Regions from separate parts of the Homo sapiens genome. Here regions 2 and 3 are each linked to region 1. The links come from fine-mapping of genetic effects on gene expression. A gene starts in region 1. Each other region holds a variant in brackets. All regions are shown on one strand. Distances are from middle to middle.

What was found.
Region 2: its variant is fine-mapped to the expression of UTP6 in whole blood (INTERVAL, PIP above 0.99).
Region 3: its variant is fine-mapped to the expression of UTP6 in esophagus muscle (GTEx, PIP 0.94).

The regions. Positions count from the first base shown.
Region 1 is chr17:31,895,839-31,906,536 of GRCh38, forward strand. It overlaps UTP6 (UTP6 small subunit processome component), which reads right to left and starts at 5,870. Exons shown (of 19, transcript NM_018428.3): 1 at 5,698-5,870; 2 at 3,808-3,892. The coding sequence starts at 5,789. RefSeq lists enhancers at 5,345-5,494, 5,538-6,129, 5,815-5,864.
Region 2 is chr17:31,983,321-31,991,320 of GRCh38, forward strand. It overlaps SUZ12 (SUZ12 polycomb repressive complex 2 subunit), which reads left to right. Exons shown (of 16, transcript NM_015355.4): 10 at 5,000-5,177. Among named protein-coding and RNA genes, the nearest start is that of LRRC37B, 20 kb to the right of the region's middle. The variant G/A (reference allele first, on the strand shown) is at 4,484.
Region 3 is chr17:32,059,251-32,069,948 of GRCh38, forward strand. No RefSeq gene overlaps it. Among named protein-coding and RNA genes, the nearest start is that of VILMIR, 18 kb to the right of the region's middle. The variant C/G (reference allele first, on the strand shown) is at 5,003.

The DNA of each region.
Region 1 (10,698 bases):
ATCCATATTTCTACTCAACATTATCCCTTTAGCTATATCCCTATTCACCGAGGCTGGTGGTGTGTGCCTGTAATCCCAGCTACTTGGGAGGCTGATCAGGAGGTAGAGGTTACAGTCAGCCGAGATCATGTCACTGCACTCCAGCCTGGGTGACGGAGCGAGACTCCATCTCAAAAAAGAAAAAAAAAAAAAAGTTTGCTCTTATAATGAATATAAAGCAGTCCTACACCTGGTTTTTTTTTATTGTTTGTTTTTTTGAGATGGAGTCTCGCTCTGTCGCCCAGGCTGAAGTGCAGTGGCGCAACCTAGGCTCACTGCAACCTCCGCCTCCCGGATTCAAGCAGTTTTCCTGCCTCAGCCTCCCCAGTAGCTGGGATTACAGGTACGTGCTACCGTGCCTGGCTAATTTTTGTATTTTTAGTAGAGATGGGGTTCCACCATGTTGACCAGGCTGATCTCCAACTCCCAACCTCAAGTAATCCACCCGCCTCAGCCTCCCAAAGTGCTAGGATTACAGGCATGAGCTACCGCGCTCGGCCCCTACACCTTGTTTTAATCTTTATTTAACTAATTACTGATAAGGCTGATGTCTTTTCATAAGTTTAACTACAAGTGATGTTTCCCCTTTGTGACTTTCACGTTCACATGATTTGCCCATTTTTCTTTTTAGTTTTCATTTTCTTCTCGATTTACAGTTCTTTATATATGTGTATATGTAGTTCTAATTATGTGTTGTAAATATTTTCTCACATTTTGTGGCTTGTATTTTCACATTATTTGTAGTGTCTTTTTTGCACAGAAAAAAATTTTTTTTTTTTTTGAGACAGGGTCTCTATCACCCAGACTGAAGTGCAATGGCGCCATCATGGCTCACTACAGCTTCCACCTCCCAGGTTCAACTGATCCTCCCACCTCAACCTCCAGAGTAGCTGGGACTACAGGTGTGCACCACCATGCCCAGCTAATTTTTGTATTTTTTGTAGAGATGGGGTTTGCCATGTTGCCTAGGCTGGTCTTGAACTCCTGGGCTCAAGCGATCTGCCTGTCTCACACGTGAGCCGCCACGCCCCTCCAGAAATTTGTATTTTGAACACAATCAAATAAATCAGTCTTTTCTCTCATGGTTTGTGCTTTCACAGTCTAATTTAGCTTTAAGAAATCTTTTGGCTGGGCACACTGGCTCAAGTCTGTAATTCCCAAAACTCTGGTACGGCAAGGCAGGAGGATCACTTGAGCCCAGGAGTTCAAGACCAGCCTGGGCAACATAAGGAGACCCTATCTCTACAAAAAATAAGAAAATTAGCCAGCCATCTGGCACAAGCCTGTAGTCCTACCTACTTGGGAGGCTGAGGCAGGAGGATCATCTGAGCCTAGAAGTTCGAGGCTGCAATGAGTGCTCGCACCATTGCACTCCAGCCTGGGCAAGAGTGAGTGTATTATTTGGAAAAAAAAAAATCTATTTTTGACATAATATGGTCTTGGCTCATTTTGAGTGAGCAATCTACTCATAGGACCTCTTCCAAAAACAATAGCTTAGCCAAGGTTCATATATTGTTTGTTCGGCTGTCTTTTGTCTTTTTAAATCTAAGCTCAAAACTTCTAGTCTTTTTTTTTTTTTTTTTTTTTGAGATGGAGTTTCGCTCTTGTCTCCCAGGCTGGGAGTGCAATGGCACAATCTTGGCTCACTGCAACCTCCACCTCCTGGGTTCAAGCAATTCTCCTGCCTCAGCCCCTGAGTAGCTAGGATTACAGGCACCCAACACCACACCCGGCTAATTTTTGTATTTTTAGTAGAGATGGGGGTTTCACCATGTTGGCCAGGCTGGTCTCGAACTCCTGACCACAGGTGATCTGCCTGCCTCAGCCTCCCAAAGTGCTGGTATTACAGCATGAGCCACCATGCCCAACCAAAACTTCTAGTCTTATAAACATGTGATCTTGTTATTGGTTCTTTCTGAATCCTGATTCCGTCATCCAACATATTAGCTATTCTCCCCCACTGGAAAATTGGTCTGACATAATTTTTCTTTATTCAAACCTTCCATGCATTTACAAGATGAAAAAATCTTGCAGTACACCTCTTTCCAAGTGGACAGACAATAGATAAACAAGCAGTAACTTTTCAATTCTCTACACTCATCACATTCACTCTCCTCTATCTTGCTCACCAAGAGGCAAATCTCTTGCTGAAGTCCTGATACACACTATGTCTCTGACAATCTCTGATCTACAAACCCAGTAGAAAAAAAAAAGAAAGAAAACGACAAGAGAGAAAGAGGAGGGGAAAAGTAAGTTCAGTTTGGCCAGGACTACAGTCTTAGTGGAGTAATGCTACTCCCAATGCTACTCCTGTTCAGAAATATCTATCTAATGAACGTTTCTGGAATTCTTTTAATTTTTTTAAAAAACTGATGTTGGCCGGGCGTGGTGGCTCATGCCTGTAATTCCAGCACTTTGGGAGGCCGAGGCGGGTGGATCACCAGGTCAGGAGTTCAAGACCAGCCTGGTCAAGATGGTGAAACGCTGTCTCTACAAAAATTAGCCTGGCGTGGTTGTGGGCACCTGTAATCCCAGCTACTCAGGAGGCTGAGGCAGATAACTGCTTGAACCCAGGAAGCGGAGGTTGCAGTGAGCCGAGATCGCACCACTGCACTCCAGCCTGGGCAATAAGAGTGAAACTCCATCTCAAAAAAAAAAAAAATTTGATGTTAAGCTCATCATTCTAGAACTGATTTTAAATTTGTGAAGGAATGGGAGGCTGAGGCAGGAGAATCACTTGAACCCAGGAGGCGGAGGTTGCGGTGAGCGTGAGCAGAGACTGTGCAACTGCACTCCAGCCTGGGTGACACAGAGAGACTCTATTTCAATTAATCAACCAATCAATCAATTTGTGAAGGGATTAAAAAGTAAGGCTAGGACCGAGCATGATGCCTCATGCCTGTAATCATAGCACTCGCTTTGGGAGGCCGATGCTGGTGGATTGCTTGAGGCCAGGAGTTCGAGACCAGCCTAGCCAACATGGCAAAACCCAGTCTCTACTAAAAGTAGCTGGGTGCGGTGCCATACGCCTGTAATCCCAGTTACTGAGGAGGATGAGACTTGAGAATCACTAGAACCCGGAAGGCAGTGGTTGCAGTGAGCCAAGATCGCGCCACTGCACTCCAGCCTGGGTGACAGAGCAAGACTCTTGTCTCAAAAACAAAAATAAAAAAAGTAAGGCTGGGCCCGGTGGCTCACAAACACTTGTAATCCCAGCATTTTGGGCGTGGGCAACATGCCGAAACCCTGTCTCTACAAAAAACACAAAAGCTAGCCAGCCATACTGGCACACACCTGTAGTCCCAGCTACTCCAGAGGCTGAGGTGGGAGGATGGCTTCAGCTCAGGAGGTGGAAGCTACACTGAGCCATGATGGCACCACTGCACTTCAGCCTGGGTGAAAGGCGAGCCCCTGCCTCAAAAAAAAGTAATGAAATTATTAATTATTGGCCGGGCACTGTGGTTCACACCTGTAAGCCCAGCACTTTGAGAGGCCAAGGTGGGTGGATCCCTTGAGATCAGCCTGGGCAATGTGGCAAAACCCAGTCTCTACCAAAAAATTAGCCAGGCATGGTGGCATGCATCTATGGTCCCAGCTACCCAGGAGGCTGAGGTAGGAGAATCGCTTGAGCCTGGAGGGCAGAGGTTGCAGTGAGCAGAGATCACACCATTCACACCACTGCACTCCAACCTGGGTGACAGAGTGAGATGCCATCTCACCAAAAAACAAAAAAGAAAAAAAGAAAGAAATTATTAATTACACACTTACTTGAACATAATTGATAAAGTCTTCCTTGAAAAGGGTTCTTCTCTGGATTTTGTACTCTAGATCGGAAGCCTTCTTAATGATAGCCCTGAGGAGAAAGCCATTTAAACTTCACTTGAAAACTGCAAAAATTAAACGTTTAAGTTTATTTTGAATATATTTAAAACATGTTTTTCAAAATACGAAATTCCTAGAGTTATCTTTCATAAGAAAGTATTATCGGCCGGACACAGTGGCTCATGCCTGGAATCCCAGCACTTTGGGAGGCTGAGGCGGGTAGATCAAGAGGTCAAGAGACTGAGACCACCCTGGTCAACATGGTAAAACTGCATCTCTACTAAAAATACAAAAATTAGCTGGGCGTGGTGGTGCGTGCCTGTAGTCCCAGCTACTCGGGAGACTGAGGCAGGAAAATTGCTTGAACCTGGAAGGCGGAGGTTGCAGTAAGCCGAGATCGCGCCACTGCCCTCTGGCCTGGCGACAGAGCAAGACTCCATCTCAAAAAAAAAAAGTATTCTCTTACACAATTACTTTTGTGTTCTTAAGGGTTCATTTTTAAACTTTCAGGAAAATCATCTTAATCAACTCCCAAAACCAATGACATTCCCACCAGCAAAGCAAATACAATTAAGAACTTTATACCATTTATGTATGGTGTTTTTTTTGTTTGTTTTTTTCTCGCTCTGTCGCCCAGGCTGGAGTGCAGTGGCATGATCTTGGCTCACTACAACCTCGGCCTCCCGAGTTCAAGCGATTCTCCTGCCTCAGACTCCCGAGTAGCTGGGACTACAGGCGCTCACCACCACGCTCAGCTAATTTTTGTATTTTTAGTAGAGACGGGGTTTCACCATATTGGCCAGGCTGGTCTCGAACTCCTGACCTCGTGATCCACCCACCTCGGCCTCCCAAAGTGCTGGGATTACAGGCGTGAGCCACAGCGCCTGGCTGGTATTAATAAAGACTTCTTTTACTCCAAGTTCAGGTCACTTAAATTTTAATAATAAATTTCTTTCCGAAATTCCTCTTATTTCTGAGTTCTCAACATGTAAATTTTTTTAAAAATCTAAATTGCGTCTGCCTTAAAAGACTTATTACTACGAAGGACTTACGGGAGAAGATTCAGAGTCCTTAGCTAAGGAATGAACATATGACAAATATATATTAGGAGAATTTAATGCAAGATGTGCAAGACAGGTGTCTTTAGTAATGGTAACATTAACCTTAACTGAGCACTTTCTAAGCGTCCACACTGCTTTGTTTTGTGTTTCATTAACGAATGCTTACTTTGAAGCTCTGAGTCACATTACTACATTCAGACGTTGCAAAACAAAGCAACAGTCACAGAAACCATTAAAAACTATTAAACATAATTTTAACACGCTACTGAATGTCTACCATGTGCCAGGCGCTGTAGTTAGGCTCTGGAGTAGCATATGAAACTGATTTCAATGGTCCCCACCTTCAAGTCTAGTTAGGAATTTATCCACTCCCCCTGGGCTCTCACAGCACTCTGTTCCCATCCCTACAGCAGTACAAGGTACTACAATCAACTTACAGTACACTGTTATCAAAATATTTAATTTGTCTGTCTCCCCCACCACACTCTGCCCAATTAGCTCCTAATGAGCAGGAATCCTGGGTTTATCACCTTTACAGCCCTAAGACCCGGCTCCATGAAGGGCTGTCAAAACGTCTGATGGGTAAGTAGACGGACGGATTACCTTGCAACGAATGAAAAATTAATTCTGGACATCACCGAAAACGAGAAATGGGCTTCCACCACGTTAGGAAAAGTAAACACAGGTCGAGCGTCCCCACATCTAGCCCCTGCCACACACTCCCAACCTCCCCTCAGGCCGCCTCAGCTCTTCCCTCTCCCCAACCCTCTCTCACTTAATCTCCGCATGACTGAACAGTCCAATGCGCTCCAGCTGTTCCAATTCCGGGAGCCGATCTTCTATGCGTTCCTGAATTATCTCTGCCATGAGGTCCGAGGTCTACAACCCCGCGGGTAGCTTCTCAACAGCGAACACGAGCAGGAAGCTCCCGGTTTCAGGTTCGGAGACCCAGCCCTACCACCGACGCGTCCGGACGTAACGTGCTCCCTAGGTCCCGCCTTTTCCGCTTCCGCCACCTCCTACTTAGGGGAAGGCCCTTCGGCTTCTACAGCCACCGTCCCCTCCCTGTGGCCGATTGTGGGATTGCAGCGAGAACCCGCCCTGGTCTTGGGCAGGACGACTCTAGCGGACAGGAGTTGAGGGGCGGGGCTAGACGGGAGGGAGGGGTTAAGTGCGCGCGCCGCTAGACTTGGACAGCCATCAGGAAAAGCGCCTCCAGGTGTAGAGAGGTGGGCTGCTCAAGCCTGAAAGGGACACGAGATGCATTTTCTTCAGAATATTGTCTCCCATCCCACGTCCTGACTTCCCAACACCAAGAACAACAACAAAAAAAAAAGCAAAGGAGGAGGATATTGTACAATTAAACATTTTTGAAAGCCGGTCGCGGTGGCTCATGCCTGTAATCCCAGCAGTTTAGGAGGCCGAGGCGGGCAGATCACCTGAAGTCAGGAGTTCGAGACCATCCTGGCTAACATGATGAAACCCCGTTTCTACTAAAAATGCAAAAAAATTAACTGGGCGTGCTGGCACGCGCCTGTAATCCCAGCTACTCGGGAGGCTGAGGCAGGAGAATCGCTTGAACCTGGGAGGCCGAGATCGCGCCATTGCACTCCAGCTTGGGCAACAAGAGTGAAACTCCGTCTCTAAATAAATAAATAAATAAAATAGAATTGTTTATTATTTAAATCAATATCCTGTCTTTGTAAGCAATAGCTTTCAAAATATATGTCCCTAGGTGAATATCAGACACTATAAATTCTTTTTAGAAAAGGAGATTTTTGTATTGAAAAGTTTGAGAATTACCAAAATAAATCACTAAGGTATAGACACCCTCCTTAAACCATTGCCCAAGCAACTTAGCATTTCTAAGAGAAACACCAGGCAACACAGCTTGGAGGCAATATTGCTGGTATAGTTAGTAAACCTCAAATGATAACTACATGGTTCAGTTCTTTTTTAGTTCTGGATATAAAAAAGCCAAAGCAGCAGTTCTTGCTAAATCTGCTTATTTCAACATTCACATTAGCACCTGGATCCTGTGTGTGATTTATGAAAGGAGAATGGGCTCAGCAAAACCATGTTCCACCTCTGTGCCTTGCATTTCTTTCTTTCCTTTCACATTTTACCCACTCATCTCAGAACTGAGACGAGGGTTGGCTTGTGCTACACCATTTCTTGAATCCTTCAGCTGTAAGACATGTCAGAAGTGGAAGGAAATCACGAATGTAAGACAAAGATAGAATTTATTTGTAAAAGTAAAATCTCTGGGGCTGTGTTAACAGTAAGAGTGGAGATGACACTAGATAGTAAACTCCATATGGGCAGGGAATTTTTTCCTTTTTGACTGGCTAGATACTCTACAGCTTATAGCAGTGCCTACCATATAATAAGTACTCAGTTAATAAATGCATGACACTAAGAAAAGGTACTTGCTAAATTTCTTTAGGTACAAGGAAGTCAGCAAGTTATGACAGACTGTAATCATTTCAAAGTAAATTTGATAGAGACCTTCATAAATTAACCATGATTTTTATTTTATTTTATTTTATTTATTTATTTAGAGACAGAGTCTCGCTCTGTCACCAGGCTGGAGTGCAGTGGCGCGATCTCGGCTCACCACAACCTCGACTCCCCTGGTTCAAAGGATTCTCCTGCCTCAGCCGCCCGAGTAGCTGGGACTACAGGCACGTGCCACCACACCCAATTAATTTTTGTGTTTTTCGTACATACAGGTTTTCATCATGTTGGCCAGGATGGTCTCAATCTCCTGACCTCATGATCCACCCGCCTCAGCATCCCAAAGTGCTGGGACTCCAGGCGTGAGCCAACGCGCCCGCCCAATTTTTAAATCAAACTAACTATAAATACGCTCCTCCTTTATATTGTTTTGTTTTGTTTTGTTGTTCTTTTTAAGACCGAGCCTCGCTGGCCAGGCACTGTGGCTCACACCTGTCATCACAGCACTTTGGGAGGCCGAGGCCACGGATAACCTGAGGTCAGGAATTCAAGACCAGCGTGGCCAACATGGAGAAACCCCGTCTCCACTAAAAATACAAAAAAATTAGCTGGGCCTGGTGGCCTCTCTCTGTTGCCTAATGGGGAGTGCAGTGGTGCGCTCTCGGCTCACTGCAACCTCCACCTCCTGGGTTCAAGCGATCCCCCGAGTAGCTGGGATGACAGGCGTGAGCCACCATGCCCGGCCTAATTACGTTTTTGTTTTGTTTTGAGACAGGGTCTTACTATATTACCCAGGCTGGAGTGCAGTGGTGTGACCACAGCTCACTGCAGCCTCAACCTCCTGAGCTCCAGCAATGCTCCCACCCCCGCCTCCCAAGTAGCTGGGACTACATGTGTGCCCCACCGCACCTGGCTAATTTTCCTTTTTTCTTTTTTGTAGAGACAGGGGTCTCACTATGTTGCCGAGGATGGTGTTTTTGTTTTTGTAAATAGAGACAGGGTCTCACTGTATTGTCACCATGGTCTTGAACTCCTGGCCTCAAGTGATCATCTTGTTTCCCCTTCTCAAAATTCTGGGATTACAGGCATAAGCCAGCACGCCCAGCGATCCTCCCTTATTTTGAAATTTAGCTTTTTTTTTTTTGAGATGGAGTTTTGCTCTTGTTGCCCAGGCTGGAGTGTAGTGGCGTGATCTTGGCTCACTGCAACCTCAGCCTCCCAGATTCTAGTGATTCTCCTGCCTCAGCCTCCCGAGTAGCTGGGATTACAGGCGCCCACCACCACGACCAGCTAATTATTGTCTTTTTAGTAGAGACGGAGTTTCACTATGTTGGCTAAGCTGGTCTCGAACTCCTAACCTCAGGTGATCCGCCCACCTCGGCCTCCCAAAGTGCTGGGATTACAGGCATGAGCCACCACGCCTGGCCAAAATTTAGCGTTTATGTATATATTCTTGTTGTTGTTGTTGTTGTTGTTGTTGAGACGGAGTGTCAGTTTGTTGCCCAGGCTGGAGGGCAGTGGCATGATCTCGGCTCACTGCAACCCCCGCCTTCCCGTTTAAACGATTCTCCTGCCTCAGCCACCTGAGTAGCTGGGACTACAGGCGCACGCCACCACGCCCAGCTAATTTTTGTATTTTTGGTAGAGACGGGGTTTCACCATGTTGGCCAGGCTGGTCTGGAACTCCTGACCTTGTGATCGATCCACCCGCCTCCACCTCCCAAAGTGCTGGGATGTGAGCCACCCCGCCCTGCCTAGCTTTTATATTTACCTTCAAGAATTATTATGATGGGCCAGGCGCAGTGGCTCACATCTGTAATCCCAGCACTTTGGGAGGCCGAGGTGGGTGGATCACAAGGTCAGGAGTTCGAGACCAGCCTGGCCAACATGGTGAAACCTCCGTCTCTACCAAAAATACAAAAATTAGCCGGGCATGGTGGTGCGTGCCTGTAGTCCCAGCTACTCGGGAGGCTGAGGCAGGAGAATCGCTTGAACCCGGGAGATGGAGGTTGCAGTGAGCCAAGATCACGCCACTGCACTCCAGCCTGGGTGACAGACCGACACTCTGTCCCAAAAAAGAAAGAATTATTATGATGTTTTGGAGGCCAAGGCAGGTGGATCACCTGAGGTCAGGAGTTCACAACCAGCATGGCCAACATGGTGAAATACCCCCCCACTAAAAATACAAAAATTAGCTAGACATGGTGGCGGGAATCCCAGCTACTCTGGAGGCTGAGGCAGGAAAATTGCTAGAACCTGGGTGGCGGAAGTTGTAGTGAGCCATGATCACACCACTACACTCCAGCCTGGGAGACAGAGCGAGACTCCGTCTCAAAAAAAAAAAAAAATACTTGGGAGGCTAAAGCACAAGAATCGCTTGAACCCGGGAGGCAGAGACTGCAGTGAGTCGAGATCGTGCCACTACACTCCAGCCTGGGCAACAGAATGAGAATCTGTCTCAAAAAAAAAAAGAATTATTATGACAGAAATGACAAAGCCTTCTTTTCACTTCTGCATCTCATAATAATAGCTGTCATTGGCCCGGCGCAGTGGCTCACGCCTGTAATCCCAGCACTTTGGGAGGCCAAGGTTGGCAGATCACAATGTCAGAAGTTCAAGACCAGCATGGCCAGCATGGTGAAACCCCATGACTCTGTCTCAAAAAAAAAAAAAAAAGCTGTCATTATGTAGGGCTTATTGTGTGCCCAGCTACTATGTGCACTGTTCTAAGTCCTTTATGTTTTTTTGTTTTTTTTTTTGTGAGCCGAAGTTTCGCTCTTGTTGCCCAGGCTGGAGCACAATGGTATGATCTCAGCTCACTGCAACCTCGGCCTCCCAGGTTCAAGTGATTCTCCTGCCTCAGCCTCCTGAGTAGCTGAGACTACAGGCGCCCGCCACCACGCCTGGCTAATTTTTGTATATTTAGTACAGACGGGGTTTCACCATGTTGACCAGGCTGGTCTTGAACTTCTGACCTCAGGTGATCCACCTGCCTCGGCCTCCCAAAGTACTGGGATTACAGGCATAAGCCACCATGCCTGGCCAAAGTCCTTTATGTATTAACTCACCTAATAGCATCACATAAATATTTTGAAATATCAACTCATAGAAGGAGCCCTCAAAAAGAGAGATAGTACCTGAGATTGCACCACTGCACTCCCACCCAGGCAACAAGGCGAGACTCCCCTCAAAAAAAAAAAAAAAAAAAAAACTACCTACTGGAGAAAGCCCAAGACAGAAGAAGAAACTGTTTGCATAAAGCCCGCAATGTCTCAAAATCCTGGCCAGGTGCGCTGACTCAAGCCTGTAATCCCAGCCC
Region 2 (8,000 bases), 86 kb after region 1:
GCTGGAGTGCAGTGGCATGGTCTCGGCTCACTGCAACCTCCACCTCCCGGGTTCAAGCGATTCTCCTGTCTCAGCCTCCCAAGTAGCTGTGATTCTGTGATTCTGCGTGCCACCACGCCTGGCTAATTTTTTTTTATTTTCAGTAGAGACGGGGTTTGACCATGTTGGCCAGGCTAGTCTGGAACTCCTGACCTTGTGATCTGCCCACCTTGGCCTCCCAAAGCGCTGGGATTACAGGCATGAGCCACTGCACCCGGCCACACGGAAGGCATCATACTTTGAGAGCCAGACTGCCTGATTCAAATGTCTGCTCCTAGCTATGTGGCGTTTGGCAAGTTACTTATCCATGTCTCAGTTTCTTCTCCTGTAACATGAGACATAGAATTGATGGATTAGATGAAATAATAAAATATTTAGTACAGTGCCTGGCATACAATAAGTGCTCAATAAATGTTAACGGCTATTTTAAATTCTATTCATTGTAATGGCAGGTAATAAGGGATGACTAGTAATACATTTATCAAGAAATCTGCAGAATTTAGATTAAGCGTACTTAAGATAACTCTTTTAAGAGATAAAGAGGAATCCATGCATTTCTTAAATAGGTAGATTCAAAACTGTAACGATGTCTTTTATTTCTAAATATGTTAGATCAGTGTTACCATCCAATGCAAAATCTCATAAGGATTTTTTTAAGCCTTAAAATTAGTTCCAAGTCAATCTAGAAGGATAAGTATTTAGTAATACTAAGGGAAATTTTAGAAAAATATTTTGAGAATTTTTACTTACCAGTTTTAGTATGATATACGATATACAGTAGTACATACCATAAAGTTAAGAGAACTTAAACCCTATGGTATAAGCATAGGAATAGACAAGCATATCATTCAAGCATATCATTCAGGCATAGTCCTGAAATAGTTTGATGTATATTTGAAATTTAGTTCATGATAAAGGTGGTGGTATAGCTATGTGAGAAAGAGAAACTGTTCATTAATTGTGACAACTCTTCTCCAGTCATCTGGAAATAATCTTAGACCTAATACATTCTGCAAGGCTCATAAACATGTAAAAATGAACATTCATAAGCATGGAAAAAAAATAGGTGAATGTTAATATACTGCAGTGAGGAAGACCTTTCTAAGGATGATTGAAAAGTAAGAAAGCATAAAGTAAAAATTGTCGGGTTAAAATTAGTCATTTTTATACTGCAAAATATCTAAAGTTACAAACAAATTATGGAATGGGGGAAGTATCTGTAACACAAAATGCTAATATGAATACATAATATTGTGAATTATAAAACAAGAAAAAGATACGCAGTCTAATAAGAAATATGTGTCAAGGACTCTCACGCAGTTCTTAAAAAAACAAATATAGATGGCCAGCAGACTTTTAAAGCAGTACTCAACCTTATTAGTACTCAAAGGCATGCAAATGCAGAGATACTTTTGAGAGTTCGACAAAGATTAAAAGTTTGACAGTTTCTAGTGTTTTAGGGACGTGAGGACACATATACTCTCAAATAATATTTTGATGTAACAGTAAGTTGGGGCCGGGCTCAGTGGCTCATGCCTGTAATCCCAGCACTTTGGGAAGCCAAGGCGGGTGGATCACCTGAGGTTATGAATTTGACACCAGCCTGGCCAACATGTCAAACCACATCTCTACCAAAAACACAAAAATTAGCCAGGCATGGTGGCAGGTGCTTGTAGTCCCAGCTACTTGGGTACTTGGGAGGTTTAGGAGTATTACTTGAACCTGGGAGGCAGAGGTTTCAGTGAGCTGAGATTTTGCCACTTCACTTTATCCGGGGAAACAGAGCAAGACTCTGTCTCAAAAAAAAAAAAAAAAAAAAAAAGGTTGATACAGTCTTACTATAGGGCAGACTGGCAATATATATAAAGTTAAAATTGTATATATAGTCTTTAACAATTCAAATTTTATATTTTTGTCACAGTGTAGTAACTTGTTAACAAAAGATGTAGGTAACAGGTTTTCTCAGCATTTTTTAAATAATGAAACATTAGAAACATGTTAAATCTAAAAAGCTATTAAAAAGGATGATAGTTTACAAGATTTCCATATTAAATTTTTACATAACTGTATACATATATATATATATATTTTCCCTGTTTCTAAAATTTATAATAGTGGTTAACTCCAGGTGATGAGATTTCAAATAATTTTTATCTATACTGTTTGGGTTTTCTGCATGGATTTATCTTTATGATCTTTTTCATTTTAAATTTCTTGTTTTAAAGTATGTTTTTATTCATGAGACTATAAGGATTATATATATGAAGAGTTTTTGTTGTTGTTGGTTTTGTTTTTGTTTTTTTTTTGTTTGTTTTGTTTTTGAGATGGAGTTTCACTCTGTCACCCAGGCTGGAGTACAGTGGCATGATCTTGGCTCACTGCAACCTCCGCCTCCCGGGTTCAAGCGATTCTCCAGCCTCAGCCTCCTGAGTAGCTGCGATCACAGGTGTGCACCACCATGCCCAGCTGATTTTCATATTTTTAGTAGAGATGGAGTTTCACCATGTTGGCCAGGCTGGTCTCGAACTCCTGACCTTGTGATCCACCCGCCTCGGCCTCCCAAAGTACTGGGATTACAGGCATGAGCGACCGTGCCCGGCCTGGCCTTTTTTTGTTTGTTTCTGTTGAGATGGAGTCTCGCTCTGTCACCCAGAGGTGGAGTGCAATGGCGCGGTCTCAGTTCACTGCAACCTCTGCCTCCTGGGTTCAAGCAATTCTCTTGCCTCAGCCTCCTGAATAGTTGAGATTACTGGCATGCGCCACCAGGCCTGGGGGTTTCACCATGTTGTCTTGGCTGGTCTCAAACTCCTGACCTAAGGTTTTCCACCCACTTCGGCATCCCAAAGTGCTGGGATTACAGGTGTGAGCTACTGTGCCCGGCCTATCTGGAAGCTCTTAACCCTGTAAAATGGGCATCCTTTTAAGTCAGAGCATATAGATTTACTTCTTTTTAAAAGTTCTGAGATTTTTTGTTTTGTTTTGTTTTGTTTGGGTTCCTTAATTGACTAAACCAGTGCTGGTCTAATAGATAATTGGGTTATTTGATTTTTTTTAATCTTGTCAAAAATGTTAATAGTGATTATACTTGAACCTGTATCAAGTATTTTATAAGATAAATTCCTGTGGACTGCTGTGTCCAAACTAGTCTCTGAACACACTTTTACTACATTCTAGTCTAAGTAGTTTTTTGTTTTGTTTTGTTTTGTTTTTTGAGATGGAGTCTTGCTCTGTCTCCAGGCTGGAGTGCAATGGTGCAATTTCGGCTCACTGCAACCTCTGCCTTTCGAGTTCAAGCGATTCTCCTGCCTCAGCCTCCCAAGTAGCTGGGATTACAGGCGCCAGCCACCATGCCCAGCTAATTTTTTGTATTTTAGTAGAGACGGGGTTTCACCATGTTGTCCAGGATGGTCTCGAACTCCTGACCTCACGATCTGCCCTCCTCGGCCTCCCAAAGTGCTGGGATTACAGGCGTGTGCCATTGCGCCCGGTCCTCTAATCTAAATAGTTTTAAGAGGATTACTTTGTAATAATGATATAGAAGGAGTTTAGGCCTCTGTGGCAGTAAAATAAATTGAAGCTCATTGAAGACTACTTGATCTCTCCTATATTTGAATAGGAAAGTAAAAATCAGAAGCAAGTAGAACAACTGAGATACTCTAGTAGTAAGGCAATACTGATCTATAACAAAGGTTTTTTTGTTTTTTTGTTTTTTTGTGATCCTTGAAGGACAAGGAAGAAATGATAAACATTTTAAAAAGGACTTGGTAATTGCATGAGAAACGAAAGGATAGGAGTCAAATATAATTCCAAAATTTTTAGCTTAGGGTCACTAGTAGAATGATAATGACAAGAACAAAAATAACGTGAGAAGGAAAGTGTTTTAGAAGAAAAGATACTGGATACACTTCTAAACATGTTTTAGTTCAAGGTGACATTGAGATCAACTGGCAGTGTCCAAGAGGCAATTGGAGATACGAGTTTACAGTTCAAGTGTAAGGATAAGAATGCAGAACCAATTTGGGATCATCAGCTTAATAGGTAAATTCTTGAGGATGGTTGAGTGATTCGGTCAGATGGCTAAAAGTTAGCTATTTTCAATAGCTCAGTGTTGTAAAATCAAAGAAGGGAAGCACTGGCAGTCATTGTCAGTGAAACTGAGAGAAGTCAAAGAAAATTACTAATTGAAAAGCTGTTCAATTTACAAAAAAAAAAGTAATTGGTCACCTAAGAGCAAAGGTTGCATGCTGGTGGGCTTTGGGTACCACAATTTTATTTTTAAGACATTTCAAGGCCAGGCGTGGTGGCTCATGCCTGTAACCCCAGCACTTTGGGAGGCCGAGGCAGGCAAATCACCTGAGGTCAGGAGTTCAAGACCAGCCTGGCCAAGATGATGAAACCCCGTCTCTACTAAAAACACACACACAAAAAATTAGCTGGGCGTGAC[G/A]GCAGGTGCCTGTAATCCCAGCTACTTGGGAGGCTGAGACAGGAGAATTGCTTGAACCTGGGAGGGGGAGGTTGCAGTGAGCTGAGACCATGCCAGTTGCACACTAGCCTGGGCGACAAGAGTGAAACTCCATCTCAAAAAAAAAAAAAGACATTTGAACTGGTTAGCAACAACCTAAATGGGAAATTTTCCCATGATAACTTTGATTTCTGACCTATTTGGAAAAATCTGAAAATCTGTCTGTGTTGGACGAGTGTTTTCACATGGCAACAATTCACCTGTTGCTGATCAGTGGTCGCCTCTTTTAGACAGCCTGTGCTCTCCAGTTCAAGTTCTACAGTGTCTGGTCCATACTTTTACTTTGTTTGCCTAGCCGTCTCAGTCAGCATTTGGATTTTCAAGACAAATCTATTAAGGCAAATCCACATTGACTTATAATGAATTTTTTTTAATTTCTACAATTTATTTGAATTCATTATCTGAGTCTCCAGTCTTTGCATGTTTTTTATTTTTTAGAGGCTGCCTCCATTCGAAACATTTTCTCAGGGACCTACGTTGCAGTTCACTCTTCGTTGGACAGGAGAGACCAATGATAAATCTACGGCTCCTATTGCCAAACCTCTTGCCACTAGAAATTCAGAGAGTCTCCATCAGGAAAACAAGCCTGGTTCAGTTAAACCTACTCAAACTATTGGTAAGAAAACATTGCAATCAAAATAATAAAATAATGGTTTGCAGAGTTAGGTCTTGTGCTTTAGATTAATTCATTTGTGTTTTGCTTTATGTGATTCTTCTTTTTTTTTTTTTGAGATGGAGTCTTGCTCTGTTGCCCAGGCAGGAGTGCAGTAGCGTGATTTCGGCTCACTGCAACCTCTGCCTTGTGGGTTCAGATGATTCTCCTGACTCAGCCTCCCGAGTAGCTGTGACTACAGGCGCATGCCACCACACCTGGCTAATTTTTTGTAGTTTTAGTAGAGACAGGGTTGGCCGAGCGCAGTGGCTCAACACCTGTAATCTCAGCATTTGGGAGACCGAGGCGGGCGGATCACAAGGTCAGGAGATGGAGATCATCCTGGCTAACACGGTGAAACACCGTCCCTACTAAAAATACAAAAAAATTTAGCCAGGTGTGGTGGCGGGCACCTGTAGTCCCAGCTACTTGGGAGGCTGAGGCATGAGAATGGCGTGAACCCAGAAGGTGGAGGTTGCAGCCGAGATTGCACCACTGCACTCCAGCCTGGGAGACAGAGCAATACTCCATCTCAAAAAAAATAAATAAAAGTAAGTCAATAAATTAAAAAAGTAGAGACGAGGTTTCACCATGTTAGCCAGGATGGTCTCCATCTTCTGACCTCATGATCTGCCCGCCTCAGTCTCTCAAAGTGCTGGGATTACAGGTGAGAGCCACCTCTGCTGGCCTCTATGTGATTAGCCTTTCAGAATATTATCTGGCTTATTGGGTAGGTTATGAATCATGGTAAATTAAGGTTCTCCTATATTAAGTGTAAAGTCTTGTGTTGAAGTAGTAGTAAAAATTCTTTATCCAGAACCTTTGTGCCAAGTGTGCCTAGAAATTTGAATTGAAAAAAAAAATTGAAGCGTGATATGGTACATAGTATAGATATCATATATAACATCTTGAAGTGGGGTCCTCATGGTAAGTTAGAGCAAGTTTTTCCACTAAACAAATTTGCCAGAAACTTACAAGAAAACTATTGGTTTTCAGATTAGCTTTTAAGATTTTGGAATCACAACTACAAAGAGCTTTGGAACTAAGTTGTTTTTTTTTGTTTTTTTTGTTTTTTTGTTTTTTGAGACGAAGTCTCACTCTGTTGCCCAGACTGGAGTGCAGTGGCTTAATCTCGGCTCACTGCACGCTCTGCCTCCCTGGTTCATGCCATTCTCCTGCCTCAGCCTCCTGAGTAGCTGGCATTACAGGCGCCTGCCACCACGACCAGCTAATTTTTTTTTTTTTTTTTGTATTTTTAGTAGAGACGGGGTTTCACCTTGTTAGCCAGGATGGTCTCGATCTCCTGACCTTGTGATCCGCCCGCCTTGGCCTCCCAAAGTGCTGGGATTACAGGCACGAGCCACTGTGCCCAGCCCAGGAACTATGTTTTTTATAACTCACATATAAGTTTTTCTGTTTGTTTGTTTTGTTTGTTGTTTTCTTTTTTGAGATGGAGTCTCGCCCAGGCTGGAGTGCAGTGGTGCGATCTCAGCTCACTGCAAGCTCCACCTCCTGGGTTCATGCCAATTTCCTGCCTCAGCCTCCCGAGTAGCTGGGACTACAGGCGCCGGCCACCATGCCCGGCTAATTTTTTTTTTTTTTTTTTTTTTTTTGGATTTTTAGTAGAGATGGGGTTTCACCGTGTTAGCCAGGATAGTCTCAATCTCCTGACCTCATGGTCTGCCTGCCTCGGCCTCCCAAAGTGCTGAGATTACAGGCGTGACCCACCAGGCCCAGACTAACTTTTTTTGTATTTTTAGTAGAGATGGGGTTTCACCGTGTTAGCCAGGATGGTCTGGACCTCCTGACGTCGTGCTCTGCTCACCTGGGCCTCCCAAAGTGCTGAGAATTACAGGTGTGAGCCACCGCGCCCAGGCTGCAGTGCGGTGACGTGATCTCGGCTCAGCACAACCTCCGCCTCCCGGTTTGAAGCAATTCTCCTGCCTCAGCCTCCCGAGTAGCTGACATTACAGGCACACAACCACTAGGCCTGGCTAATTTTTGTATTTTTAGTAGAGACAGGGTTTCATCATGTTGGCCAGGCTTGTCTCAAACTACTGATGTCAGGAGATCCACCCATCTCGGCCTCCCAAAGTACTGGGATTACAGGCATGAGCCATCGCGCCCAGCCAGTTTTTAAGAGGAAAAAACATTTACAAATAGAGTTAACTTTCTGCTGAGTTTAAGGCCCAAGTTGCAGTGTTCTATCATTTTTATTTTACTTTTTTTTTTGAGACAGGGTTTCTCTCTCTCACCCTGGCTGGAGTGCAGTGGTGCCATCTCAGCTCACTGAAACCACCGCCTCCCAGGCTCAAGCGATCCTCCCACCTTAGCCCTCCATATAGATGGGACTACAGGCTCGTGCCACCACGCCCTGTTAATTTTTGTATTTTTCGGTAGAGATGGGATTTTGCCATCACCCATGCTGGTCTCAAACTCCTGAGCTCAAGCAATCTACCTACCTTAGCATCCCAAAGTACTGGGACTACAGGCTTGAGCCATTGCGCCTGGCCAAGTTCTGTCATTTTTGTGTCTGTCCAGTAGGTACATTGTCCTTGACCTGAGAGAGCACTCATGTGTCTTTATCTGCCTGTTTAAAGAAGGCAGAAGGCGTAAGTTGTCCTCCTTGACCACTCATGTACACTCATTGTGTGCAGGTGACAGTAATGGTCAGATTAAAGAGATATAAGAAATGGGGCCGGGCGCAGTGGCTGACATCTGTAATTCCAGCACTTTGGGAGACCAGGGTGGGTGGATTGCTTGAAGCCCAGGAGTTCAAGACCAGCC
Region 3 (10,698 bases), 160 kb after region 1:
TGGGAGGCAGGGGTTGCAGCGAGTCAAGATCGCGCCACTGCACTCCAGCCTGGGTGACAGAACAAGACTCTGTGTCAAAAAAAAAAAAAAAAAGAAAACAAAAGAAAAAAAAAGGAATGTTTTAGGGGAGGCCTGTTCTGCTCCCATCTGAGCCCTGGGTCAACTTTAGCGTCCTAGGCTGGACATGATGTGGCTCCCATTGGGAGCAGTAGTAGTAGGTTGGTGAGGGCCTGGAAGGAGACGTATCTCTCTGAGTTAAGGAGGGCACCTCAGAGGATCAGGCACATGAACAGAGACCTGAAGGAGAAAAAGCGGAGGATACACATAGAGATCTGGGGGAAGAAGGTTCCAGACAGGAGGAACAGCGGGTGCCAAGACTCTGGGGTGGGAACTAGCATGGAGAAGTAGAGATCAGCTAGGAGGCTGATGTGGCTGGACGGAAGTGAGAGAGAGAGGAGAGGAGGTGCAATCAGAGATATATCAAGGAAAGAAAACATGGGGGGCTGGGCACGGTGGCTCACGCTTGTAATCCCATCACTTTGGGAGGCCAAGGCGGGCGGATCACCCGAGGTCAGCAGTTAGAGACCAGCCCGGCCAACAAGGCGGAACACCGTCTCTATTAAAAATACAAAAATTAGTGGGGCATGGTGGTACATGTAATCCCAGCTACTCGGGAGGCTGAGGCAGGAGAAACGCTTGAGCCTGGGAGGCAGAGGCTGCAGTGAGCCGAGATCGCGCCACTTTGCAATCCAGCCTGGGCAACAAAGCGAGACTCCGTCTCAAAAAAAAAAAAAAAAAAGAAAGAAAGAAAAAGGAAAAATGGGGAATTTCATTGGAAGGCCATGCCAAAACACAAACAAAAAAGAAACAAATAAAGGAAAAATGGGGAAGGATTCCTCAGGAAGTTAAAGAGTTGACAATCAATTTCAGGGACCCCGGGATTTGAGTCTAGCTCCTTCGTGGGCAAGGGGACGTGCTGACCAATGCACACCTGTGCCTGCCAGGCTCCTTGTCAGTTACCTGTTGCCAGTTAAGCTGTCTAACAAAGGCCAGGCACAGTGGCTCATGCCTGTAATCCCAGCACTTTGAGAGGCCAGGCAGGTGGATCACTTGAGGCCACAAGTTTGAGACCAACCTGGCCAACATGGCAAAACCTCGTCTCTACTAAAAATACAAAAATTAGTCAGTCGTGGTGGCGGGTGTCCGTAATCCCAGCTACTCAGGAGGCCGAGGCAGGAGAATCGCTTGAACCCGGGAGGGAGGCAGAGGCTGCAGTGAGCCAAGATTGCACCACTACATTCCAGCCTGGGCCACAAAGTGAGACTGAGCCAAAAAAAAAAAAAAAAAAAAAAAAAGCTGCCTAACAACGCCCAAATCCAGCAGCTTAGGACAATCAGCATTAATTTTGGCTTCGCAGGCTACAGGGCAGTTTTTCTGCTCCTGGCTGGGCTCACCCACCAGCGTCTATGGGTCCAAGAGTCACACTGTATTTATTCAGGCTGGGTCTTTTCGTATATTTGGGCCCGGCTGGCTATAGGCTGGTCTAGGACAACAGGATTCTTCCCTCATCCTCCAGCAGGCTAGCTCGGGCTTGGTCACCTGACAGGGGCAGGGTTTCCAGACGTCGACCAGAAAGATGTACCACCTCTTCAGGCCTAGATTGGGAAGTGACTTCACTTCTGCTGCAATCCATTGATTGGCCAAAGGAGATCACGAGACCAACCCAGATTCAAGGGGTGTGGAAGTAGGCTCCACCTCCCAGTGGGAGGAGCTACCTAGGCAAAGAGTATAGATGGTGGGCGGTAGAATTGGGTCCGTGAAGCCAACTTGACCAGCCCCATGATTCCTTTGGGGCTTTTGATAATCATTCCCTGCCCCTCCCTGGGTACCCCAAGGCATTCTATGGTCCTCGACCCTAGCTTTGGCCCCTGTAGAAGTTCTTTTTTTTTGAGACGGAGTCTCGCTTTGTCACCCAGGCTGGAGTGCAGTGGCGCGATCTCGGCTCACTGCAAGCTCCTCCTCCCGGGTTCACGCCATTCTCCTGCCTCAGTCTCCCGAACACCTGGGACTACAGGCGCCCACCACCACGCCCGGCTAATTTTTTGTATTTTTAGTAGAGACGGGGTTTCACTGTGTTAGCCAGGATGGTCTCGATCTCCTGTCCTCGTGATCCGCCCGTCTCGGCCTCCCAAAGTGCTGGATTACAGGCATGAGCCACCGCGCCCGGCCCTCTGTAGAAGTTCTTTCTGCCCAGGTTTGCACTCTCTCTAAGCTCCCACAGGAGCTGTGGCTTGGGTTGTTCAAGGCCCCAAATTCCCGATTGGACTTCCTTTCTTCAGCTCTGCATTGGGGTGTGACCAGGACTGAAGTATTTTATTGAAATCATTGGCTCTCCTGATAGCAAACAGAGAGTTGGTGTCAGTAAGGCAGAGGAGAGGTTAGTCTGTAGTGTGCTATGGAGTAAGGGAGCAATGGAAATCGGGAGCTTAGTTTGAACACACTCAGTGTCCCCTTGTGCAGTGTCCAACCTGCCCAACCGTACCAGCCCACCCTGACTGAGGGACTAAAGAGTGGAGGAAAGGAAGGGGAAAGGGATTTCACTGACAGCTGGAGCCTTAGTCCTCGGGCCAAATGAAGGACCTTCCCAGAACAGAGTGACCCAGAAGGAAGCTGTGGCCCAACCACCAAGATGGGTAACCCCGACAGGCGCAACCTGCCCTCTTGTCAATCAAGGCTGGACCAGGTGGTGTGGGGAAGGGGTGGAGGACTAAGAGAGGGGGCAAAGAGGAGGGTAGGAAGGTCCTGGCCTAAACGACCCAGTTAGTTTCGCCATCACCCCCTACCCCCATCCTGTATCCCAGGGAAGTATAGTGCAGCTGGGTTCTTGGTTGCCATGGCGACTGACAAAAAAAAAAAGACTTGAGGGGAGGAAAACACCCCGGGGCATGAAGAAGCAATTTGCTCTCAGGTCTGGGAGTCAGCACCGGAATCAGAATGTCCTAAGGAGGAAAGAAAACTGAGCGAGCCGGGCTTGGGTAGGTGGCAAACCTTCCCAAGGCCCCCTGCCAGCCATCCTAAGAGAGAGAGGGTAGGGGCGACCCCAGCTCTGTGTGGGAGGCGCCAACTCTAAGCCCCCACCCCCGAGGCTGCCCCTCCCACCCGAAGCGTTTAGCACCCAGGGTCTGGGGTGGGGGGCGAGGCGGGGGCGGGGCTTCCCAACGGATTGCTTTTTTTTTTTTTTTTTTTTTAATTTCCAGTTCCGCCTTGGGACGAGTCCCTGGCTGGGGGAACCGCATCAGGCCTGACACCCATCCCAGTCCCCCCTAAACCCAGAACGAGATCCAACCTCACTCCCCAGCCCCTTCCCGACCTCGCCGCTCAGGCTGTGATGGGAAGGTCCCTGGGAGTGGGGAGGAGGGCAAATTTAAACCCGGAGGGGATCCTGTAGCCCAGTTCCCTAAACCTCCAGGAAAGCGGAGAAAGTCACATTGTGGTGGCAGCTGCGGGTTTTTTTTTTTTTTAATCTGTTAATAAAACGCAAGTGAATCAAATCCGCCCTAAGGGAAGGTGGGGGGGCGCGGCGAGGCAGAGGCCATGGTGTTTGCAGAAGTTGGAAATTTAATAAGAAGGAAAAATAAAAATAGCCACTGTGCTGGAGAGAGAGAGAGAGAGAGAGAGAGAGAGAGAGAGAGAGAGAGAGAGAGAGAGAGAGTTGGGAGAAGCAGGCAAGTGTGGGACTCCTGGCTGGGTGGAAACGTGCAGAGGGGGCTGGGGAAGGCGAGGGCACCGCACCACTAGTCCGGAGGAGCAAGGGAGACACTGCTGGGGATACCAGGAGGGGAGTCTTTGGGGTGTCACCAGAACAGTCCAGTTCCTTGGCAGATTTTTCACCAGCAATGAGCTGGGCACAGAGGTTGGGGTTTGGCCCTCTAAACACCTGGGTGTAGAGGTCCAGCCTCTGGTTACTTGGTCTTCACAGCGCCCCCCACCTTCTGAGCTACTCAAGAGATGGGGGACAGTAGCAGTACTGCCAAGAACAGTTGTGCAAGTTGCGCACTGCACAAGCATGCCAGACAGAGGCTAGAGCAGAAGCTAACATCATCTGTTCCCCTCACCACACATTGCATCTGCCCAGAGGAAGAGGTACCTTTTATTTTATTTTATTTTATTTTATTTATTTTATTTTTTGAGATGGAGTCTCACTGTTATTGCCTGGGCTGGAGTGCAATGGCACGATCTCAGCTCACTGAAACCTCTGCCTCCCAGGTTCCAGAAATTCTCCTGCCTCAGCCTCCCCAGTAGCTGAGATTACAGGCACCCGCCACCACGCCCAGCTAATTTTTGTATTTTTAATAGAGACGAGGTTTCACCATGTTGGCCAGGCTGGTCTCGAACTCCTGACCTCAGGTGAGCTGCCCACCTCAGCCTCCCAAAGTGTTGGGATTACAGGCATGAGCCACGGCACCCAGCAAGGAAGGGGTACCTTTTAAAGATCTACACAAGGCCGGGCACCATGGCTCATGCCTGTAATCCCAGCACTTTGGGAGGCCAAGACGGAAGGATCGCCCAGGACCTGAAGACCAGCCTAAGCAGCATAGGGAGACCACCATCTCTACAATAAATAAATAATGACAAAATAAACATCCTGGCCGGGCGTTGTGGCTCACGCCTGTAATCCCACTGCTTTGAGAGGCCTAGGCAGGCAGATTGCTTGAGCTCAGGAGTTCAAGACCAGCTTGGGCAACATGGTGAATCCCTGTCTCTATGAAAAATACAAAAATTACCCAGGCATGGTGGCGCACAACTGTGGTCCCAGCTACTCAGGGGGCTGAGGTGGGAGGATAGCTGGAGTGGAGGCTGCAGTGAGCTGTGATCACGCCACTGCACACCAGCCTGTGTGACAGAGTGAGATCCAGCCTCAAAAAAAAAAGAAAAGTCCACACAAAGTTGACAGTGAACCAGCTGCATCTCTGAACACATCCAGTGATACCCCCTCCACCCC[C/G]CTCCAGGAAACCCAAGATTGCTGACAGGCCCAGCTACAGCAGCTTTGAGCTGGCTGCAGCCTGTGGGGTCCTCTGGGAGCAGCTGAATGGAATTTGTTCATGCTTTCACTCAACAAGTATTTACTGGGTGTTTATTTCATGCCAGGTGCCATGCTGGGCAGTGAATGAATGAACCTTGCTCTGGGGTTAACACTCCAGTGGGATGAACAGGCAAACCCCACAAGCACTGCATACGGTATGCAAAATGGGGTGCATGCTATGGAGGGACATACAGCTGGGAGGGGTGGGGGCGGGCAGGGGCCCTGGGTGCAATTTTTACAAAGTGACCTCACTGAGGAGGTGACATTGCAGCAAACCCAGAAGCAGGCAAGGAGGAGTCACGTGGCTGGCTGAGGGAACAGCATTTTAGGCAGGGGGAACAGCCTGTGCAAAGCACTGAGACCTTGTTTTGTGAATTGAGCGCCTTGAAATATGGGTTGCTTGGCCCTAGTTAAGGTTCTGAAAGAGCCTTTAATTTTTTTTCCCCTAGACCTGGGTGTGGCGGCTCATGCCTGTGATCCTAACTACTCAAGAGGCTGAGGTGGGAGGATCACTTAAGTCCAGAAGGTTGAGGCTGCAATGAGCCATGATCATACCACACGGCACTTCAGCCTGGGTGACAGAGCAAGACTTTGTCTCAAAAACAAAAAACAAAAAAATCCAATTCCGGCCAGGCGCAGTGGCTCATGCCTGTAATCCTAGCACTTTGGGAGGCCGAGGCAGCTGGATCACAAGGTCAGGAGTTCGAGACCAGCCTGGCCAAGATGGTGAAACCCCGTCTCTACTAAAAATAAAAAAAAATTAGCTGGGTGTGGTGGCATGTGCCTGTAGTCCCAGCTACTCAGGAGGCTGAGGCAGGAGAATTCCTTGAACCTGGGAGGCGGAGGTTGCAGTGAGCCGAGATCGTGCACTGCACTCTAGCCTGGGCGACAGAGCAAGACTCCATCTCAAAAAAAAAAAAAAAAAATCCAATTCCAACCTATACAAGGCAGCAGCTGTGAGGTGACACAAGTATGAACCCCATTAAGTCCCCCCAAAAGCCAAGAATCTTGGATTTCCTTCACAAGTGAATGACCCCCCCAATCTTAAAGGAAAATCATTCTAGCAGCAAATCCTAGACAGGAGTTACTATCAGCCAGATATTGCCATCTGCCTTAACTGGTTTAATCCTGACAGTGAACCCCAGTGATGTAGAAAATGTTACCACCATTTTTTTTTTTTTAATACAGAGTCTCGCTCTGTCCCCCAGGCTGGAGTGTGGTAGTACAATCTCGGTTCACTGCAACTTCTGACTCCTGGGTTCAGGTGATTCTCCTGCTTCAGCCTTCCAAGTAGCTGGCATTACAGGGGCACGCCACCACACCTGGCTAATTTTTATATTTTTAGTAGAGATGGAGTTTTGCCATGTTGGCCAGGCTGGTCTCGAAGTCCTGACCTCAGGTGATCTGCCCGCCTCAGCCTCCCAAAGTGCTGGGATTACAGGCGTGAGCCACCGTGCCCGGCTGTTATCACCATTTTACAGGTGGAGAAACCAAGACACAGAGCAATGCAGTGGCTCCCATGTGTGGATAAGAAGTAGCTTGTAGATTTGAACCCAGGACACCTTTCTGTGCATTGAGCCAGGCCGATCTGCACCCAGGCACCTGCCCAGGTGGATGCAGGGCCTGTGAGATTCTTCCAAGGCCTCCCATTTTGATGGGGTCCCCAGGCCTCCAGGCCTGCACTGGAGCTGGTCTGCTTCCAGGTGGAGCCAACGGAGGGTCCTGGTGCGGGGGAGTCGGCGTTGGCGGGTGATTGATGGTTTAATATCTCGCGCTGCGACCTGGGCCCCTCCTCTCCCACGCCTCTGTGGGTGGCCCCCAGTGAGAGGCGGAGATGGGATAATTCGGTTACCAAAAAGAGAATGAAAATTCCAGAGAGAGAAAGAGACAGAGAAAGAAGTGCAGACCAGGGAGTGCGCTGGGAGCTGATTTGGCAGGGCTGGGCTTGGATGGGAGGGAGGAGGCCGACTCTCAAATCCGGAATCCCTCTGGGGGCCTGGGGACTCATAGGTCCCAGCCGTCTTCAACTCCCATCTGACTTCCTGTCTTGAGAACAGAGACAGCAGATGTGACAAGTGAGAGGTCACAGGCAGGGGCAAGGCCTCAGAGGAGAGGGAAGCATGTGGCCTCCGCCTGGGACAACTGCTAGCAGGTGAGGCCAAGGGGAGGTAGGGACTAGTGGAGTTGGGGTGGAGGGAATGGGAGACTCCAAGTTCCCAGCTCAGAGGCTTCTGGTCATCCTTGACTGGAGTCCTCTCTCTCTTTTTTTTTTTAGATGGAGTCTTACTCTGTCGCCCAGGCTAGAGTGCAATGGCATAGTCTTGGCTCACTGCAACCTCCGCCTCCCGGGTTCGAGCAAGTCTGCTGTCTCAGCCTCCCGAGTAGCTGGGACTAGAGGCGTGCAGCACCACGCCTGGCTATTTTTTGTATTTTTGGTACAGACGGGGTTTCACTGTGTTGGCCAGGCTGGTCTCGAACTCCTGACCTCAAGTGATTCTCCCACCTTGGCCTCCCAAAGTGCTGGGATTACAGGCGTGAGCCACCGCGCCCCGCTGGAGTTCTCTCTTTTTTTCTCTTTCCATCCACGTTCAAACCTCGGACTTCATTTCTTCCCCACCTCCCCGGCCCTCACCTGGTCCAGCCCAGCATCCCTCACCTGGACTGTGCAGTTCCCTCTACCCTTGCTCAGGTCTCCAGCCTGGCCCTGAAGCCTGTTCCCTCCGCAGCCTCCAGAGGGCGCGAGCGAACACCTGATCAGGCCACGCCCCCTCCTCCCGCTCAGAACCCGGAAGGCTCCCAACTTGTGTTAATTTCCCATGGTTGCCGTCACAAGCTAGCGTTTTTTTAACGACGCAAATTATCCTACAGCTCTAGAGGTCAGAGATGTGGTTCGGGTCTCACCTGCCTAAGACCAAGATGTCAGCAGGCTGCAGTCCTTTCTTGGAGGTTTTAGGGGACGATCTATTTCTTGCTCATTTAGGGGTGCAAGATTCAGTTCCTCGGGATTGTAGAACTGAGGCCCCTGTTTTCTTGCTGGTTGTCTGTTCCCCGTTTCTAGAAGTTGCCTGCATTCCTTGGCTCGTGGGCCCTCCCTCCATTTTCAAAGCCAGCAATGACGAGTCAAGTCCTTCTCATATGACAGCCTTCAACTCCCCTCTGCCGCCCCCTTGCACTTTAAGGACTTGTGTGATTAGATGATCCAAGGTCATTTCCCTGTCTGAAGGTCCTTAATTACCTAATCAGCAAAGTCCCTTTTGTTGCATGAGGTAGCAATTCACTAACCTTGCTTCTCAGGGCCTGGCTGTGTCCAAAGGACTCTTTCTCCTTTAGACACTTTTAAGTGTTTCACCTGTCCTCTGCCTCTCCCTGGGCACCTGCTCCCTGCTCAGCCTGCCTCTCCCGCAATTCAAGCCAGTCATATGCTTGACACTCCTCCAGGAAGCCTCCCTGAAGTACCCATATTTATCAACCCGCTGGAGCAGTTACCAGCCCCTTTCTCCTATCCTCCCCAGGCCACGAGATCTTGAAAGTTTAGGATGAGGAAGTAGACATCTTGGGAAGGAGGGCATTATTCTCCTTACCAACTGCCTCACTCAGAGCAAAACTCCAGTCCTCACGGAGGCCAGAAAACCCAGCTTTCTCCAAGCAGATGGGCCTCCTTACTGTTCTCCAAACTCACCAAAGACATCCTGCCTCAGGGCCTTTGCACAGGCTGTTCCCTCTGCCTGAGTCATCCTCCCCCAGATATCCACATGGCTCCTCCCTCACCTCCTCCAGGTCTCCCTTCACTTGTGCCCCTCCCCAGGGAAGCCTTCTCTGATGCACACACACCCAATTTACAACATCCACAGACTCTTATTGCTGCTTTTTTTTTTTTTTTTTGAGACAGGGTCTCGCTGTGTTGCTCAGGCTGGAGTGCAGTGGTGTGCTCTCAGCTCACTGCAACCTCCACCTCCGAGTTCAAGTGATTCTCCTGCCTCAGTCTACTCAGTAGCTGGGATTACAGGCATGCTCCATGACACCTGGCTAATTTTTGTATTTTTAGTAGAGACGGGGTTTTGCCATGCTGACCAGGCTGGTTTTGAACTCCTAGCCTCAAGTGATCCGCCCGCCTCGGCCTACCAAAGTGCTGGGATTACAGGCCTGAGGCTGCTGTATTTTCTCCATTGCACTGGCTACTTTTGGCTACACCACAGAATATTCACTCCTTGTTCATCTTGTCATCGCCCAGGTCTCCCACTGGAAAGTCAGCTCCAAAAGGGAAGTTCCTCCACACTGTTCTCTCCTGGCTCTGTATGCTGCCCCCTTCCCTGGCCCTTGGCATACAGCAGGTGCTCAATAAGTGTTAGGGCTGGGCGCAGTGGCTCACGCCTGTAACTACCAGCACTTTGAGAGGCCGAGCGGACAGATTTGAGCCCAGGAGTTCAAGACCAGCCTGGCCAACATGGCAAAACCCCGTCTTTACTAAAAATACAAAAATTATCCAGGTGTGGTGATGCATGCCTGTAATCCCAACTACTCGAGAGGCTGAGAAATGAGAATTGCTTAAACCTGGGAGGCAGAGGCTGCAGTGAGCAGTGATCATGCCACTGCACTCCAGCATGGGCATCAGAGCGAGACTGTGTTTCAAAAAATAATAATAAGTGTTTGTTGAGTGAATGGATGGCAGGCAGGCAGGGCCCCAGCCCAGAGGAGGATGGGGACCCAGTGGAAGGTGGGAGCGGCAGGTGGAGAGGGATTGGTGTGGAGATGTTAGAGAAAAAGACCTTCTAGAACAATCCTGGGGGTCAGGTGGTCCCTGTGATGAAATGAACCAGCATTGTGTGAATTCAGTCAAGGGCTGATCTCTCATGATCTCTATAACGTGCTTTTCACAGGGAAACGTGTCCCCCCTGCCCCACAATCCCCTTGATAAAATCTTAGCTTTATGACTTTGTTCTCTGTTCATCTCAGATAACAGATGTTCCTGGAGTTGCCTTAGTCACAGGGCAGCTTGGCTTCAATTCAAAACAAGGAATGTCCAGACCCAGGCTGGGGCCTTGATTTAGACTTCAATCCTATTTCCTTCTGCCTCTCCTCCATCCCCACCAGCATCATGTTCTGGGGGTCTGGGTAGTGCAGGGGCCCCTTCCTTCTTGCTTTCCTCTCCTTTCCTTTCACGGCCAGGGCTGCAGCTCCAGGAGGGAATATAGTGTGTCAAATGGTGGCCCCCAAAAAGGATGTGTCCACATTCTGGCCCCTGCAACCTGTGAACGTGATGTTATTATATTCACTTTTTTTTTTTTTTTTGAGATGAAGTCTTGCTCTTGTCTCCCAACTGGAGTGCAATGGCGCAATCAAGGCTCGCTGCAACCTCCGCCTCCCAGGTTCAAGTGATTCTCCTGCCTCAGCCTCCTGAGTAGCTGGGATTACAGGCGCCTGCCACCACGTCCCCTAATTTTTGTGTTTTTAGGAGAGACGGGCTTTCCCCATGTTGGCCAGGCTGGTCTCAAACTCCTGATCTCAGATGATCCGCCTGCCTCGGCCTCCCAAAGTGCTGGGATTACAGGCATGAGCCACCACGCCTGGCCAACTTATTTTTTTTTTTTAAAGACATGGTCTTGCTCTGTCACTCA